Homo sapiens: one gene and its partner. Changing the gene in region 2 together with the main gene of any one other region gives a genetic interaction. Each region holds a gene or a part of one and is shown on either strand. Other genes may lie near its edges.

Region 1 (3,816 bases), on a different chromosome or scaffold from region 2:
CTGCCCACCTTGGACTCCCAAAGCACTGGGATTACAGGCATGAGCTACCATGCCCGACCAGTATCAGTTCTTTTATGGCATTTATTAGCTGTAAATGCTATTGATCCTATATGTAATCAATTAGGATTGGACTTTGTGGTTTGAATAATCAAAAAAAAAAAAAAAAAAAAAAAAAAAGTCAGGCCGGGCGTGGTGGCTCACGCCGATAATCCCAGCACTTTGGGAGACCGAGGCGGATGGATCATGAGGTCAGTAAATCGAAACCATCCTGGCTAACATGGTGCAACCCCGTCTCTACTAAAAATACAAAAAATTAGCCGGGCGTGGTGGCACGTGCCTGTAGTCCCAGCTACTCGGGAGGCTGAGGCAGGAGAATCACTTGAAGCTGCGAGGCGGAGGTTGCAGTGAGCCGAGATCACACCACTGCGCTCCAGCCTGGGCGACAGAGCGAGACTCCGTCTCAAAAGAAAAAAAAAAGAAAAAGGGCCGGGTGCGGTGGCTCACGCCTGTAATCTCAGCACTTTGGGAGGCTGAGGCGGGCGGATTACCTGAGGTCAGGAGTTCGAGCCAGCCTGGCCAACATGGTGAAACCCCGTCTCTACTAAAAATACAAAAATTAGCTGGGTGTGGTGGCACACGCCTGTAATCCTAGCTACTTGGGAGGCTGAGGCAGGAGAATTGCTTGAGCCCGGGTGGCGGAGGTTGCAGTGAGCCAAGATCGTGCCACTAACTGCACTTCACCCTGGCCGACAGAGCGAGACTCTGTATCAGAAAAAGAAAAAAATTCACTCTTTTTCTTTTACCACTATTTGAGATAATAAGTGGGGAAAATGTATGAACATTTTACAGTGCTATATAGAAATAAATTGTGACATATATGAAATATATGCTATTATTTATAAGTAACTGTCTTACTACACCCTAAGTTGTTTTGTCAGAAGTGATGGACTTTGCTAATCACTCACACATAACCCACTGTGAATCCTCTAGGTAGAGTTAATCATTCCCTGCTTTGGGTGTACATGATACTTGCTTTTGATTATTTATTTATTTATTTATTTATTTATTTATTTATTTATTTATTGAGACTGAGTCTCGCTCTGTCGCCCAGGCTGGAGTACAGTGGCGCGATCTCGACTCACTGCAATCTCCGCCTCCCAGATTCAAGCGATTCTCCTGCCTCAGCCTCCTGAGCAGCTGGGACTACAGGCGCCCGCCACCACACCCAGCTGATTTTTGTGTTTTCAGCAGAGATGGGGTTTCACCATGTTAGCCGGGATGGTTTAGATCTACTGACCTCATGATCCGCCTGCCTTAGCCTCCCAAAATGCTCGTATTACAGGCGTGAGCCACCATGCCCGGCCGCTTTTGATTATTTAAGTGCATTCCTCTCCTCTCCCCAGCAACTATTCTGAGTTCTTTGAAGCAGAGGATCTTGTTTTACTTGCCTTTTGAATTTATTAAATTATTTGCGTCTGTACCCATCCATTCTTTCTATGTTTATGAAAGAGTTACCCTCCTGTCCAAGGATTGTCTTTTTACTTATATCTGGTTCCAAGAAGAGGAGTCACATCTCAAGAATTGGTTGCTTAGGTCTTTCCATTATAAGGGAGAAACAAAACAAAGCCCTCTTGATCTCATACAGTTCTTTAGTTATCACCAACTCTACTTCTCTTCATTTCATGATCAAGCTTTGGAAAGAACCCGCTATTCTCAGTATTCACATTTCATTAGATTTTCAGCCCCTTGCAATCTGGCTTCTCTCTTTACTGCTACAGGAAAATTTTAAAAGTCCAAAAGGCATACAAATACCTAAACATAAGAACTAAAACTATGAAACTCTTAGAAGTGAACATAGAGGGGGCCGGGCATGGTGGCTCACACCTATAATCCCAGCACTTTGGGAGGCCAAGATGGGTGGATCACCTGAGGTCAGGAGTTCCAGACTAGCCTGACCAACATGGAGAAACCCTGTCTCTACTAAAAATATACAAAATTAGCCAGGCGTGGTGGTACATGCTTGTAATCGCAGCTACTCAGGAGGCTGAGGCAGGAGAATCGCTTGAACCCAGGAGGCGGAGGTTGCGGTGAGCTGAGATCGCGCCATTGCACTCCAGCCTGGGCAACAAGAGTGAAACTCTGTCTCAAAAAGTAAATAAATAAATAAAAATAAGGGAACATAGAGGGAAAACATTATGACACTGGATTTGGCAATGATTTCTTTGATATGACACAAAGCACAGGCAGCAAAATAAACAGATAAATTGGAATTCATCAAAATTAAAAACTTTGTGCATCAAAGGGCAGTATCAATAGAGTGAAAAGGCAACCCATGGAACTGGAGAAAATATTTGCAAATCATATGTCTGATAAGGAGTTTAATATCTAGAATATATTAAGAACTCCTACAGCTTAACAACAAATATAACCTGATGAAAAACAGAAAAAGAACTTGAATAGACATTTCTCCAAAGAAGATATACAAATGGACAAATAAGCACATGAGAAGATGCTCACAATTACTAATCATTAGGGAGATGCAAATCAAAACCACAGGATACTGTTTCACACCCATTATGATAGCTATTAATAAAAAAACAGTTGGGGCTGGGCATGTTGGCTGATGCCTGTAATCCCAGCACTTTGGGAGGCTGAGGCAGGCGGATCACGAGGTCAGGAGATTGAGACCATCCTGGCCAACATGGTAAAACCCCATCTCTACTAAAATACAAAAAATTAGCCAGGCATGGTGGTGCATGCCTGTAGTACCAGCTACTTGAGAGGCTGAGGCAGGAGAATTGCTTGAACCCGGGAGACAGAGGTTGCAGTGAGTTGAGATCATGCCACTGCACTCCAGCCTGGTGACAGAGCAAGACTCTGTCTCAAAAAAAACCAAAAAACAAAAAAAATCCCACAAAAAAAAAACACAGTTGGGCATGGTGACTCATGCCTACAATCCCAGCACTTTGGGAGGTCAAAGCAGGCAGATCGCTTGAGCCCAGGAGATTGAGACCAGCCTGGGCAACGTGGTGAAACCCTGTCTCTACAAAAAATACAAAAAATTAGCTGGGTGTGGTGACATGCACCTGTGGTGCCAGCTACTCAGGAGGCTGAGGTGGGAGGATCTCCTGAGGCTGGGAGGTTGAGGCTGCAGTGAGTTATGGGTGCACCACTGCACAGTAACCTGGGCAACAGGGTTAGACCCTGTCGCCAAAAGGGGAAAATAAAATAATAATAAAAAAACACCCAGAAAATAACGTGTGTTGGTGAAGATGTGGAGAAATTGGAACCCTTGTCCACTGCAGGTGGGAGTGTACAATGGTACAGCCACTGTGGAAAAGGGTATTAGCGTTCCACCAAAAATTTAGTTTTTATGTGCTTCAGAAGGGAGGAAGTGAATGCTAATTGGTCCATAGGCAGTCATGGGTGGGCCTGGAAAAAGCACCCTAAGTTCTCGCTGTGGTCCGTGTAACTGGCAGCCAGGCTTCCAGGCTTCAAGCTGTTCCTGGCTTGAAGGTGGGTCTTCACTGGGGACCCACCCCTTTCCTCCCAGGAGCCTACTTCCTGCTGCCATCAACCTGCCACCCACTACACCGAGGCTGTTCGTGCCGAGGGGCGCCTGCAGGCCCATATTGAGCTGCCCTCAGCCTACCGCTTGGCCTGCCCAAAGTCCAGAGGGAGATGAGGCAGCAGGGGGCTGGTGTGTCAGTGCCGTCCTGAGCACATGCACACGCGGCCTGGTCCTGACAACACCTGGGCTCCCCCACAACTTTGCTCCGAAATTGGTGTGGGTGCCGGGAGCGGGGAGAGGCCAGG
Region 2 (3,816 bases):
ACCTTCATAAGCATGTGGCAGGCTGAACTAGAGGACTCCTGTTGGGTGTTTTTTTTGCTGCCCGACATTCTTTTACAATCCTTCTGGATTAAGAGAGCAGAGTCCCAATTTTCTGTTGGGAACCACCTTGCCCCCACTCAGGAAGGGCTTACCCCAACCACAGGCTCTAAGGGTGGGCACTTGGCCTATTTCTGGCCCATCAGACCCCAGCCCATTCTAATAACTCAGGCTAGAAAGGGGCAGGTAACCACTGTGTTCACTATGCTGTTCACCAAAAGAGGCACTTCTGGTGTTGTTTTAAACCAGTAGGATTAAGCCTGCCCTGAGCTTCTGAGAGTCACTGGGCACCCCATGGGGTAAACCTATTTTTAATTAAGGAAATCGGAAGAAATAGATTTGAGCGCCTGAATCCAGTAGTGTCTGAAGCCAATTAAATCCCCAGACTCCGCAGTAATATGAACTTATGAAATTCCCTTTTATATGTTCCCTTTTAAAGTGAGAGTGAATCACATTTCTGACACTGCTAACAAAAAGTCTTAACCAATTTAGCAGGGGTACTACTGCATTTCTACTGATGAGGAAATTGAGATTCAATGACTTACTCGACAACCCCCAGCAAGTAAGTGGCAAGCACCAGCTCATTCCCATTCTCTCCTCATCCAACTACGAACCAGCCCCAACTGGCACATTCAGGGCGGTATGGCCATAGATCCCACTATACTTTTCCGACTTCAAAATATGTCTTGCACTTACAAAGCCCTTGACAATTTCCAAAACATTTTCGTATATCACCTCATTGGAGGTCACTCTCCCATTCTGGGTCAGTAGCTAATGCTGGGACCTGAGAAATGTCCAGAAATCTTCTGGTCCCTTAAGCTTATGGGTCACCATCTTATCCCCACAAGGTACCACCAAAACTCACTCCTCTGCCACATCTTCCTCCTCTTCACCTGGGTTGAATGACTCATCTGAAAAAGGGCACAGGATGCATCAGCTTCTGCCCCAATGGAAATCCCCCCACCTCACCCAGGCACCCAGCTCTGGCCCAAGGGTGAGTCCAGCCCGGGCCACAGCGAGGAGCGTCTGACCATCCTCGTGCTCAGCACGGAGGCTAACCCACCGGTTTCTTCTCCTGAGTCATCGCTGCTGTCATTGGCATTCTCCTCCCGGATCTTGCCTTCCTCCTTCATCCTCTCCAAGTAGGCATCATGCTGGTCCTCATCAGAGTCAGCATATTCATCGTAGCTTGGGTTCATGCCCTAGCCAGGGAAGAGTTCACGGTGGGGCCAACTCACCCTCGAGCCAGAATCCCTGCACACTCAAAAGCACACCCCCATGCCTGTCAAGTCAGAGCAGCAGCTCCCAGAAGACCTGGGGCTGGATTGTCCACACACAGCCAACGTGCAGGGCCTATGCCCAAGTACTTCCTGCCAACTGGGTTAGTCCAAGCCCCAAGCCCCTCCCTCTCCCAGCCCCACTGGGGGCTCCTGAGGGGCTGCATAGACTGGTCTAAGGTCATGCAGAGGAAACCTGCACCAGGAGGGGGAAAGGGTCACACGCACCTCTTTTTTCTATAAGGGTAAGAAGAGAAGAAAGAGTGAAAAAGAAGCCGGAAAAAATCTCCACCCCTTTCTCCCCTATAGAAAGACCAGGAGAGGGTCTCATCCTCCCCACACAGAAGTACCTCTTTCAATCCTCGGTTTTTGATGTTGAGCTTTTTCGCGTTGACAAAATCAAACAGTTTCCCGTACTCCTCCCTGTGAGGGGACATGCACCATGTTACCAGAGAGGTAGTGCCAACACAGGGGCACACTAAACAATGTTCTGATTCCATGAGCTGGGGTAGACTGTGGAGCCTGGAGCTCTTGACTATGCTACCCAACCCAACAGCTTAGAAACCCCCAGAGGACAGCAGTAAGGCAGAGCCAGAGCCAGACATTAGTCCTGAAAGAACTGCATGGCTTTGAAGAACTCTGGGAAAGGAAAGGCAGGGAGGGGTGCGCATCTGTTTACAAAATAAGCTCAGAGGGGAGTAAGTGTGGGGCAGGGGACGTGGTCATCTTTTTTCATACTTCACAAGGTTGATATGAGGATTACACGTGAAGATGCTTATAAAACGTTTAGTCCACAGTGAGCACTCAATAAGCATTAGCCGCTATGTTCTCAGGCACAAAGCTCATTCCAGGAAAGAAAGAGATAGCATTTCCATCATGGTGGGGAGTGGAGGAGAAAAAAGACCAGTAGCGAAGACATATAGCTTTCAGAATACGGAAAAAGTTTTTTTTGTTTTGTTTTGTTTTGTTTTTTTAATGACCAGAAAGAAAGCAATGGAGAGGTTTCTAAAGTCTGAGCACTCCAGGGAAAAGGACCAAATCCTGATGTAGCAAAAGAAAAATTCTGCTCTAGGGTTGGAGAGTGCCCCAGGCCACGCCAGCCTTCCTAGACAAAGCTGGCTCGGGACCAGGATGCCCAGGAAGTGACAGGTGGAGGTTCTCACCTCTCAATGCTGCTGAAGGTATACTGAGTGCCCTGCTTGGTCTCAATTTCAAAGTCAAAGGAACGAGTAGTAGTGGTACCACGAGCAAAGTTGACAAAGGAGATCTCATCGAAGCGGATGTGCACAGGTGGCTTGTGGACGTAGATGAAGCCCCGCTCCAGCGGGTAGAGCAGTCCTGAGCTTGCCTTGTAGGAACAGGTAATGCACTGGGCCCCTGAGTGCCTGACAGAGGGTGCAGGGAGCCTGGTTAGTGCCAACCTCAGCAGAGGCAAAGGGCGTATCTAGCAGCAGCGACACGAGTGCTCATGTCCTCGACTAAGTAAACCTCACTGAGCTGTTCTGACAGAGGCGCTGGCACCTATTGTGACACAAGGTCCCATCCAGGCCTCTAGGAGGCCGCATTCCCATCTCAGGAAGGGTTTACCAAGGAGACACGGCATTTCCCATACCCAGGCAGGGCAGGATCCCAGGCCCACACTCTCACCCTTGGAAGTTGCCTGGCACTGTGATCTTGCGGTTTACCAGTGCTTTCATGACCCGGCTGACCATCTCATAGAGGGATCCTGACATGTTCTTGGTGAGCCGACCCTCAAAGCGCTTCTCCACTTCTTCCCTACAAAGAAAGCAAGGTGAGGTCACAACACTACTGCCTTCTAATGGCACACCTGTCTCCTGCCTGGACAGTGGTAGGAAACGAGTCCAGGGAGACACTCACTCGTTCATGTTCAGAGTCAACGAAATGTCCTCGTCCTTGGAGAAGAGGAGGATCAGGAAGTGGTAGCGAGTTTGGCCTTGCTTGATTGGGGGATCCAGGCTGATCTAGTAAGGAAGAGTACTAATTGACACTCTACAACAACTTGCAATTAACCAACGTAGAATTCTGCACACCAGTGAGATCCATCTACTTAACACTTAGGCAAAAACCAGGATTATCCGGCCATAGGGGTTTCTGCTTACCACAAAGAACATCTGGCGCTGGTCCTTGTGGGGTAACAAAAACAGACGCAGTACTGTGGTGTAGGGGATCTTGTAGTCAAAGGTCTTGCCATGCAGGTGCAGAAAGGTGGGGTAGATCCGAATGTCATAACGACCACGAGGAGTCAGACACTGCAGCTCCCGGAAGATGCAGATGGCATCTCCCGTGGCCTGGATTACATCCGCCTTTGACAACACATTCTGGGCAAAGGCCTGCAAAAGCACATATTGGTAGCCAAGCAGCAGGCCCTGCTCCCAGGCCAGCCAATGCCTGCTCAGCACCATCTGCTGCCAAGGCAACCAGGGGAAGCCTCACCTCAACAGGGTCCACACCATCCTCCTGG

The links.
Region 1: changes in SSRP1 (region 2) and ATR are lethal when combined (synthetic lethality), as found in Homo sapiens cells (one large-scale study listed by BioGRID).

Annotation. Positions count from the first base shown.
Region 1 is NC_000003.12:142,568,734-142,572,549, reverse strand, and holds part of ATR (serine/threonine-protein kinase ATR), read left to right. Parts: intron 1-3,816. UniProt on the Homo sapiens protein: Serine/threonine protein kinase which activates checkpoint signaling upon genotoxic stresses such as ionizing radiation (IR), ultraviolet light (UV), or DNA replication stalling, thereby acting as a DNA damage sensor.
Region 2 is NC_000011.10:57,329,171-57,332,986, forward strand, and holds part of SSRP1 (FACT complex subunit SSRP1), read right to left. Parts: coding exon 3,789-3,816; intron 3,686-3,788; coding exon 3,455-3,685; intron 3,317-3,454; coding exon 3,213-3,316; intron 3,111-3,212; coding exon 2,982-3,110; intron 2,720-2,981; coding exon 2,498-2,719; intron 1,758-2,497; coding exon 1,685-1,757; intron 1,572-1,684; coding exon of another isoform or gene 1,440-1,571; exon of another isoform or gene 1,260-1,439; coding exon 1,121-1,259; intron 969-1,120; coding exon 923-968; intron 1-922. UniProt on the Homo sapiens protein: Component of the FACT complex, a general chromatin factor that acts to reorganize nucleosomes. The FACT complex is involved in multiple processes that require DNA as a template such as mRNA elongation, DNA replication and DNA repair.